Linked DNA regions of Homo sapiens. The protein of the gene in region 3 purifies or fractionates together with the protein of the main gene of each other region. This does not show direct contact. Each region holds a gene or a part of one and is shown on either strand. Other genes may lie near its edges.

What was found.
Region 1: the proteins of IBTK (region 3) and RFC3 purify together in Homo sapiens (affinity purification with mass spectrometry; one large-scale study listed by BioGRID and IntAct). This does not show direct contact.
Region 2: the proteins of IBTK (region 3) and RFC1 purify together in Homo sapiens (affinity purification with mass spectrometry; one large-scale study listed by BioGRID and IntAct). This does not show direct contact.

What each region holds. Positions count from the first base shown.
Region 1 is NC_000013.11:33,831,647-33,835,302, forward strand, and holds part of RFC3 (replication factor C subunit 3), read left to right. Parts: intron 1-3,501; coding exon 3,502-3,571; intron 3,572-3,656. UniProt on the Homo sapiens protein: Subunit of the replication factor C (RFC) complex which acts during elongation of primed DNA templates by DNA polymerases delta and epsilon, and is necessary for ATP-dependent loading of proliferating cell nuclear antigen (PCNA) onto primed DNA.
Region 2 is NC_000004.12:39,359,800-39,363,455, reverse strand, and holds part of RFC1 (replication factor C subunit 1), read left to right. Parts: intron 1-3,656. UniProt on the Homo sapiens protein: Subunit of the replication factor C (RFC) complex which acts during elongation of primed DNA templates by DNA polymerases delta and epsilon, and is necessary for ATP-dependent loading of proliferating cell nuclear antigen (PCNA) onto primed DNA.
Region 3 is NC_000006.12:82,209,635-82,213,290, forward strand, and holds part of IBTK (inhibitor of Bruton tyrosine kinase), read right to left. Parts: intron 3,160-3,656; coding exon 3,073-3,159; intron 1,939-3,072; coding exon 1,856-1,938; intron 1,771-1,855; coding exon 1,733-1,770; intron 1,277-1,732; coding exon 1,180-1,276; intron 1-1,179. UniProt on the Homo sapiens protein: Acts as an inhibitor of BTK tyrosine kinase activity, thereby playing a role in B-cell development. Down-regulates BTK kinase activity, leading to interference with BTK-mediated calcium mobilization and NF-kappa-B-driven transcription.

The DNA.
Region 1 (3,656 bases), on a different chromosome or scaffold from region 3:
AACATACAACACAAAGCTAGAGATAATGTGCGTAGCTTTCTAGTAAAGGACAATGTAAAACTTTGTAATCAATGATGCATCATGTGCTAGAAAGACACCAGACTATAAGTCAGACTTCTAGTTCTTGTCCTGAACTCCTAGCTAAGTGTTCTTGATCAGGTAACTTCATTTTAGAGTTTTATCTTCATTTGTATATTGAAGATATTATTATTGCCTCACCAAGGGTACTTTTGCATTTGTTGTGAAGAGCAAAAGAGTTATTAATGGTTTGAAAACTAAAAAACCCTGTGCTTATAGATGACCATGCGTTCTACTAAGGATAGCATTGTGTATATACCATTTTTACTCAGGAAGTATTTTTTGACACATTTGCTCAAAATTGCTTCCGTTACTTCTGTAGGTCTATTATTTGTAGGTTGACCATTCTGAAAATACCTCAGCTGCTAGTTGTTTGACTTATGGCAGCTTCGATTGAGAAACACAGTTTGCTTTCCTCCAAATAAAAAATGACAATGTTAAGGCCCACTAACTTTGGAGAGTATGAAGAAGGTTCCTCAGACTTGGCTAAAGCACAGTCTCATATCCTTGTTGGGTTTCTGAACTGAGAAATGATCTTTGGACCTTACAGAGGGTAGTTGATCATTTTAGGGTTCAGAATAAACTGAGTTCAGTCTATAGACTGAATAGACTGCAGCCAATAGAGCTTACTCTTCCTTGGTCTAATGAAAATAATAGAGGAATATGCCATGTTTCTCCTTTTGTTGATACATCTGATGAATTCTAATTTTTTAAGAAATTCTTCAAAGGTATTGTAACATGTATTCCCTGGTTACCATATAGATTGGTGGAGGTGGATAGTGGATCATACATAGTGGGTACTTAGTATTTCATTTAAGGTTTGCTTTGAATTCTCAGAATTCAATTATTTTAGTTGAAGAAATCGATAGTTTTCTCCAAGAAGTACCAAATGTTATAAGTAGTCTCATTAGAAAAGAAACTTCATCTTTAGGAAAAATATGTTCATTTTATTTTGTAAAATGTTGATTATCAATAAAGAGACCTCACCCTTTAAAGAGATAAAATTCAAATAAAGCATGTCTTAGGTGCCTTTTACTTTTATAAAATATTTCTACACTGAAGATGACTTTCTTGTTTTTGTTCTGATATTAAAGAAGAAAAATTGATAGCAATATAACTTACCTACTTTTAGGGGATTTAGGTACTTGAGGTTGTAATGTTTGATAATTATCACGTGCTTTTATAAAACTACTTGATTATTCCTTTGCTTAATTCTTCTAGCTGCTGTTACAAATTTCTTCTGGTTTTCCTAACACATTTTGACGGCTTATAAATGAACTTGTGCAGGAAGCGGTGCTCCTGTTTCCTGTTTAAACCAACAATTGTAGGAATTGATTCCATTGTGCTACATAAAAAGAAATTTTGCTCAATTCCAGAAAGCCTTGGGGCTGGCCAGAAATCCTGGAAGTCTGGTATCTTTCTGATCACTGGGCTACACAATTCCAAATGATTACTTCTGATTTCTGACTCCTTTGTCTTGCTGGAATATTTGTGGTCTCGATTTTTCATTTGATCTGTCTTAGAACAGTCATAATTTTCTAATTTGAATAGCAGCGAATATTTCATGAATGATTATGTCAGCTCTTACACCGTGTTATTTAATTGATATAACACACCTATGAGAAAAATATTAACTTTTTAGATTAAAAAAAAAACCCTGACATTTATGGAGATTAGGTACCTTGTTCAGGTACATTCCATTATTATAATAGAGACAGTTCTAGGATACCCATGTTTCTCTGACAGAAGAGTTTGTACTCTTAATCACTTGTAAGCTATTAGGAAATAATGACACAGACATGGTAAATGTAGAATATGTTAATTTTGTAAAACAGTAATGTTAGAAGTTAACTCAAGACTAACACAAGATGCATGTTAACATGTATGCACTACACACAGTATAGTTACTTCAATTGTATAGGTAACTACATCCTGAATCAACTTTTCAGAAGTAAGCTATATACATATATTAAAATAATTTCATACCATATGAAATTATTTTTATTATTCATGCTTTAATAATCAAGTTTTATTCTTGGGATGTCAGAGAAATCACAGGCTTTTGAGTCAGGCCTGAATTCAAATGCTGGCTCAAATACACAAGTCTTGATGGAAGCCTGACCTGTCTGAACTTCAGGTTTGTTTCAGTAAAAGAGCATCATTGTTGTGGGGAATTAATAGTGTATTGCAGCGAACCTAGTACAGAATTAAGGTGTTAAATACTTTCACAGACATTGGAAAGGGTGTGGACTTTGGAGTAAGAAAGATAGATCTGTGTTAAATCATGCTTTGCTGTGGTCAGTTCTGTCAGTTACTTAAACCATCTGGGCCTTAGTTTTTTCATCTGAAATAAATGGGCTAGTGTAAGTACTGAGTTAAATTATTTGTTTCAATTCTTACACATAGCAGATGCCCCAGAAATGCTAGTTCTTTTTTTTTTTCCCCCACTTTTTTTAAGATTTAATGTGCCAGGGCTTCATATTCCTGACGTCTTAGGATTGACTTCTGCTTTTTAAGAATTCTTATAAATCACTACCTGGATTTATCTGAAGTATGGAACATCTGTACTGTGTGTATATATATATATATATATATATATATATATATCTGTACTGTAAAAATTCAGAAGTTTTTCCCTTTAAGAATGTGTATTTGGAACTTTCTCTCTTTTTTTTTTTTTTCTGTTTTAAAACGTCATATGTACATTTCCCTCCTCTTCCCCTTTCTCTCCCTAGAATATGAGAAGGGCCTAGAATGAAGGACTCAGAGGTTTGAATGTTCCTATTCGCTTAGCCTGGTTGCGTGCTTACCTGTAAACCTTTGTGCCGCCCCTTTTATGACAGGGACAGCTCTGTATCCCTGCCACATTGCTTTTTTACTGTGCAATCTAGGCAGTGGCATTGTATTATATTTCATGCGTATATTATCTTGTGTCACCTATGTAATTGACTTTTTAATCTTTTCATGACCATTTCCTGGATGTTTCAGGTATCTGTCTGGAGAAAAGAAAAACATATTACTTGACATGTCATTAAAGTTTGTTAAATTCCATGGTGTGAATAAGCTCAACCCGCGCTCTTCATGAAGTCTCAATTTCTATCTGGTATTTTCATGGTGTTTTGATATAATTAGGAACCCTGAATATAGACGTCTCATTTTAAAAGAGTTCTGAAAATGTTCTGTTTCAAAAATGAACTGAAGTTAGGAGAAGCCTCCATATGTTTATCCTAAGTATGGTAAACTATTTAAGAAACAGTTATTATTTCTTACTGGATTGTTTGTTAATTCATAAAGTTAGGTCATAAAGTTGTTAATTCTGTATTGGATTGTTTGTTAATTCATAAAGTAAAACCATACAGTGGGAATTTGGAAAAATTACCTCTTATTTTCTTCACAAAATACCAATTATTTTGTTTTATGTAGGCTCCTTGAAGTTCGTGGAAGGCTGTATGAGCTTCTAACTCATTGTATTCCTCCTGAGATAATAATGAAGGTAACCCAATTTCAGATCTTGAACTTTTTACAGCTATAAAATTTGGACGCTGGGTGTGTGATCATAGGGCTTTTTGCAGTATCAA
Region 2 (3,656 bases), on a different chromosome or scaffold from region 3:
AAAACTTTATACTCTGATATGAAACAATTGCCAAAATATAAAATTTCTCTGGAAAGATACAGAAGGAACCAACTGATAACATTTGTTGCCTCCAGAGATGGGAAATATGTGTCTGAGAGGCAGGATAAGAGGGGGACTTTTTACCCTTTCGAAATTTGAACCACGTAAATAAATAGAAAGAAAATTAAAAATAAAAGAAATAAAGAAGCCATGTAGACAATTTGAATTTCACTGAGATTTAATTGTTTGCACAAAACGTGAATAAAACCTGAGAGATGCCATTTTTAAGAAGTCAGCATATATAATTAATTGGTTGGTATAATTATTGAAAATATGCATAAGATTGAATTAAACACACATGAGACTTAAGGAACAGCTGTTTGAAGAGCCGTGAGGTCAGTTTAAATAAATTGTGGTCTGAACTGTTTCATTGCTCCACTCCTACAGGCAGGCAACTTTCACATCATGGTTTACTATGTGGAATGCTCTCCCTGGAGCAGTGCTCGACTTTATTATAATATAGCTTTTGCCAAATAATATGCTTTTGCCATGCATATGTACCTGAACTTGGCCTCTAAGGCCCCTACCTACCTCTCTGATTTTCTCTCTCTGTCTTTTGAGTGTGTTAGGTTGGTTCTGTTTCTCTCCGGGCTTTTGTTGCTATTTTCTTTCTTTGAAATAGTCTTCCTCCACATCCTTGCATGTCTGTCTTTTTTTCATCATTTAAGTTTCTCTTGCTAATCCAAGGTCATGAAGATTTATGCTTAAGAGCTTTGTAGTTTTAGCTCTTACATTTAGGACTTTTATCCATTTCTGAGTTAATTTTTATATAGGGTGTGAAGTATAGAGGTCCAATTTTATTCTTTTATATGTGGACATCTAGTTGTCCCAGAACCATTTTTTGAAAAGACTCTTCTTTCTCCATTGAATTATCTTGGCACCCTTGTCAAAAATCAGTTGACTGTAAATGCGAGAGTTGATTTCTAAACTCCCAGTTCTGTTCCATTGATCTATATATCTATCTAAATGCCAGCAACACACTGTGTTACCGTGGCTTTGTCATAATTTTTGAAGTCAGGAAGTATGTCCTCCACCTTTGTTCTTTTTCAAGATTGTCTTGGCTATTCCATTTCCTTGAATTTCTATATGAATTTTAGAATCAGCAAAGATGCCACATGGAATTTTGATAGGGAATTTATTGAATCTGTAGGTCAATTTAGGGAATATTGCCATCTTAACAATATTACATCTTCCGATCCATGAATGTGGGATGCCTTCATTTGTTTAGGTCTTCAGTTTGTTTAAATAGTATTTTGTAGTTTTTCACAGTGTGAGTTTTACACTTCATTTGTTAAATATATTCGTAAGTATTTTATTCTTTTTGGTGATTTTTTTAATGGAACTGATTTCTTTTTTTTTGAGACAGTCTCGCTCTGTTGCCCATGCTGGGGTGCAGTGGCACCATCTTGGCTCACTGCAAGCTCCGCCTCCCGGGTTCACCCCATTCTCCGGCCTCAGCCTCCCGAGTAGCTGGGACTACAGGCGCCCGCCACTGCACCCATCTAATTTTTTTTTGTATTTTTAGTAGAGATGGGGTTTTACCATGGTCTCGATCTCCTGACCTCGTGATCAGCCCGCCTCGGCCTCCCAAAGTGCTGGGATTACAGGCGTGAGCCACCGCGCCCAGCTGGAACTGCTTTCCTAATTTCATTTTTGGATTGTTTATTGCAAAAGTATACAGAAATACAATTGATTTTTGTATATTGATCTTGTATCCTTGCTGAACTCATTATTCTAAATTTTTTAGTGGATTTCTTATGTTTTTCTGTAAGATTGTTTCATCTGTAAACACATGGGTTTACTTCTTGTTCAATGTAGATGTCTTTTATTTCATTTTATTGCCTAATTCTTTTGCTAGAAACTCGACAACATTGAGTACAAGTGGCAAGAGCAGACATACTTTTTCCTGATTTTAGAGGGAAAGCCCTCCAACTGCTTACTTTTTGCTTCCAAGGTATAAGGCCTTAGTATAATTTTAAATATTTTATTGATTGATTGATTGATTGATTGAAACGCAGTCGCGCTGTTACCCAGGCTGGAGTGTGGTGGCGTGATCTCAGCTCACTGCAACCTCCGCCTCCCAAGTTCAAGTGATACTCCTGCCTCAGCCTCCCAAGTAGCTGGGATTACAGGCATGTGCCACCACACCTGACTAATTTTTCTGTTTTTAGCAGAGACGGGGTTTTGTCCTGTTGGCCAGGCTGGTCTCGAGCTCCTGGCCTCAGGTAATCTGCCCGTCTCAGCCTCCCAAAGTGCTGGGATTACAGGCGTGAGCCATCGTGCCTGGCTTAAATACTTCACAATTATTTCATGATTTTTTTTCTGTGTTCCCACCAGTTAAATCATTATATATTTTATTCAGATATATGATTTTGCATTTTAATGATTTTCAGGATAAAAGATTTTTGTACTTGGATAGACTTTTGTGAAGTATGTTGATGATAATCCATTTCTGCTCATGGATTTGGTGGGCTGTTTTAAAATATTAACCAGAAATACTTATATTTCTTTATTACTTTCAAAATAGAGAAGTAAAACCAAAATACAATATTTTGTCAACCGCTCTGCAGCATACTGCGGTACTTATTTTGCATAAAACTGTGTACTCTTCAAAGATAAAATGAACACAGTGACATAATTTGCTTTCTCCTTTTTTTTTCTGAGACAGAGTCTCGCTCTGTTGCTCAGGCTGGAGTGCAGTGGTACAATCTCAGCTCACTGCAACCTCCGCTTCCCAGGTTCAAGCAATTCTCCTGCCTCAGCCTCCCAAGTAGCTGGGACTGCAGGTGCTCGCCACCATGCCAGGCTGATTTTTGTATTTTATTTTATTTTATTGTATTTATTTTATTTTATTTTATTTTATTTTATTTTATTTTAATTTTATTTTGTATAGAGATGGAGTCTCGCCCTGTCACCCAGGCTGGAGTGCAGTGGCGCGACCTTGGCTCACTGCCAACCGCTGCTGCCTGGGTTCAAGCGATTTGCTTGCCTCAGCCTCCCAAATAGCTGGGACTACAGACGTATGCCACCACGTCTGGCTAATTTTTTTGTATTTTTAGTAGAGATGGGGTTTCCCCATATTGGCCAGGCTGTTCTCAAACTCCTGACCTCTAGTAATCTGCCCGCCTTGGCCTCCCAAAGTGCTGGGATTACAGGGGTGAGCCACCGCACCTGGCCGATTTTTGTATTTTTAGTAGTGATGGGGTTTCACCACGTTGGCCAGGCTGGTCTCAAACTCCTGACCTGAAACGATCCACTCACCTTGGCCTCCCAAAGTGCTGCAGTTAAGGTGTCAGCCACTGCACCCGGCCAAAAAAAGAAAACATTTTTGTGTTGCCTTCATTTTTATTTATTTATTATTATTTTTAAATTTTTTATTTCCATGGGTTTTTGGGGAACAGGTGGTATTTGGTTACATGAGTAAGTTCTTTAGTGGCGATTTGTGAGATTTTGGTGCACCCATCACCCAAGTAGTAGGTATGAATCCAGTTTGTAGTCTTTTATCCCTCACTTCCTTCCCACCGTTTCCCTGACTCCCCAGAGTCCACTGTATTATTCTTTTTTTTTTTTTTTTGAGACAGAGTCTCGCTCTGTCA
Region 3 (3,656 bases):
TACAGTGATGATAGTTGCACAAATTCATAAACATACTAAAAACTACTTATTGTATGCTTTAAAAGTATAAGTTTTATCATGCAAATAATTTCTCGATTTTTAAAAAGAATGAAAGTAGAGAAAAACATACCATGTCTCAGTTATCTTACTCTCAAGTATACAAATCTTCAGAAATTTTGTCCTCAGTTAAACTCTATCTCCTTACAAGACTACCCAGATTTCCTAGGCAGACTCAGAGGCTAGCTTCTTAAAAATGCATCTGCTTTTTAGAGAATTACTCTGTTGGATTATATTTGTTTTCTTATACATTTGTCTTCTCCACTAGATTGAGTTTCTTGAATATAAAAAAAGGTCTATCCACTTATTTTTATCCCCAGTATACAGCTGGGGTTAAAAAAAACTAATGGAATATGACAGAACATCCAGTACCATTCCAATGAGTAAACATATCTTGTAACTAAAAGTTACTGTTTTGCCTAACAAAGTACATAAATGACCTCTCTTCATAAATTTTGGTACAATTTTTAATCTGTTTCTTTCAAGATGTGTAACCACAAAGGGGAAAAACAGGTAAGAAAGAACTTATGTAAGTATTTGTCAAAACTATCCCTGTTGTCAATTCATTCATCTCCATCATAGAAGTAGCTGGAAATTGAACTGCTGAATCTAATTTCAACCATTACCTACAATTCCTTTTTTTTTTTTTTTAATGAAACGCTTCACAAATTTGCGTGTCATTCTTGTACAGGGGCCATGTAATCTCTGTATCATTCCAGTTTTAGTATACTTGCTGCCGAAGCAAGCACTAATTCTCAAAGAGTTCATTTTCACATGGGTAATGAAAACCTTTTTCTGCTCCTTTACTATTAGCAATCATTCCTATTGCTTATTCTAAATTAAGCCTTTATTGGCCAGGCATAGTGGCTCACGCTATAATCCTAGCACTTTGGAAGGCCGAGGTGGAATAATCCCTTGAGCCTAGGAGTTTGAGACTAGCCTGGGCAACATAGTAAGACCCCGGTCTCCATAAATAATAAAAAATAAATTAAATATTTTAAAAATAAAATAAATTAAGCCTTTATTGATGGTTTTTTTCTATTAGAAATTAAGATTCACGTTGATTTTACCATTATTCCATTATATGTGAAGTATCTACAATGTCCTAACTCTTATTAATACCTTTTATCACCACAGCTTCATCAGTATAGAGGTAGTCCAAAATAACTTTTAATATATCAGAATGTATTGGCATTTCCAGAGCTGCACAACTGGAAGCCTAAATAAAATAAGACAAAATAAAGTAAAATAATTCATTCTAAACAATAAAATATTACATTCTAATTTGGGTTATTGGTACAAAACACTCTGAACAGGAAATCACATCAAATGCAAAACATAAAATTTACAAAACACATGGCTAAAATAATATTAAATTTAATTTTAAAACATAACATGAAAAAGGAACAAAAAAATTCAGAAAACAAGAAACACAGTGGTGTTCCTAATACATTTCTAAATAATAACGGGGAAATTTTTATTTAAGTAGCTTCTTGGCAATAATTTTAAATTCTAAGTGTTGCTATTTTCCAGCAGCCTCAAGCATAAAGTTTAATATAAATGAAAAACTGAGCTAAAATATCCAGTTCTGATTTTGAATTTCTTTACTACATACTTTGCACAAAATATAAAGAAACATAGTTACCAACCTAGGCGCTTTTTACTTAAATCTTACCTCAATCCATGAGCTACTCAGCATACTATGAAAATATTCTAAAAGAAAAAAAAGTTCAATGCAATAAGAATAGTGAAACAATACTACAGCAAATAAATCAGCAGCTTTAAAAAGTGCACCTACCAAGTCTAGCACAAAGAACACATTTATGACAAGGAAATTCCTTTCCATCCACTGATTTCATGGTCACGTCACACAGAAATGAACTGCAAGAAAATGTTTAATTGAAGCAAGAGCAATTTCTTTACATATTTAGTGAAAAAGATTATAGGATTTGGCTTAACTTTCAGTTTTCTCTTAAAGGTGGCAGAGAATAAATAACTTGCAGGAATACATACAATAAAATACTTCATCTTTTTCCACCACAGGGAAGATAAGGGCCTTAGAGTAAAGACAATATTTGAAAAGGGAGCCGAATACAAATATTCAAAAAGTATTTTTCTGATTTTCCTTTTTTTTATTCCAGAAAAACTGTTAATAATATAATACTAAGTGATATCATATTTAAGTCTCTGTAATTCACTTATTTGTAGTAGCTAATCTGGGCCAAGCACAGTTGAAACAACTCCACAGTTTATCCTTCTCCAAAACCTTTTCACTTACAGAGGAAGCATGAATAGCTAAAAACAAAACTTTTTTTTTCTTTGAAACGGGGTCTCGTTCTGCCACCCAGGCTGGAGTGCAATGGTGCAATCTTGTCTCACTGCAACCTCCGCCTCCCGAGTACAAGTGATTCTCCTGCCTCAGCCTCCCAAGTGGCTGGGATCACAGGCACCCGCCACTATGCCCGGCTAATTTTTGTATTTTCTTCGTAGAGACAGGATTTCACCATGTTAATCAGGCTCTTGACCTCAGGTGATCCACCTGCCTCGGCCCCCCAAAGTGCTGAGATTACAGGCGTGAGCCACCACACCAGGCCCTAAAAACAAAACTTTTTAACAATATATTTAGAATAGTATATTTATTACTAAGAATTTTTTATACTAAAGGCAATAATCATAACAATGATGAAGAGGTATAATTAATTGGTTTGGGGGCTAATAACATTTCCTAATTATAACAAGGCACAAAATTCAGGCAAGAAAAAATAAAAATTAAAAGTTCCACTCTCTATTAGAAAGTCATCGGAAAGAAAAAACTCCTTTGATGTCTTCAGCAGTTAATATTTTATCAATTTACTTCAACAGCTCCCCAACATTTCCAGAAATGCAGAATACTAGAAAAGGTAAGAGGGTATCTACCTATACATTTTGCTTCATATGTGGGTAAGCAGAGATCTATTTCCACACTTAAGTGCCAAAATCCAGACATGAAATGTTAATCTTCCTTTCCTTACTTACCATTTTTTCTGACTTAGCTTCAGTTTATTACCAGTGTTCTTGGCAATAACATTAATTTTTTCATTTTCAAATCTGACTCCATCTAACCTATCAAGGATAGATAAAAATTAACAATTGATATTCCCCTACAAAAATAAACATACAACAAAAAATCCAACAAATTAGCTTACATCTAAATATAATACTGTATCCTAGAAAAGTATCTCAACAAACTCCTACTCTGAGATAAAGAAATATCATACTTTTTCTTCCATTTTAGTTAGAATTCAAAATAGATTAAACATTACTGACAAAAGACAAATCAAAGCCATAGCACAAAGTTTTTCCTTTTTTTTTTTTGAGACGAAGCCTCGCTCTGTTGCCCAGGCTAGAGTGTGGTGGCATGATCTTAGTTCACTGCAACCTCCACCTCCCAGGTTCACATGAATCTCCTGCCTCAGCCAACCCAGTAACTGGGACTACAGGCATTCACCACCATTCCCGGCTAATTTTTGTAATTTTTTGTAGAGACAGGGTTTCGCCATGTTGGCCAGCTTGGTCTCAAACTCCTGACCTCAGGAGATCTGCCCACCTCAGCCTCCCAA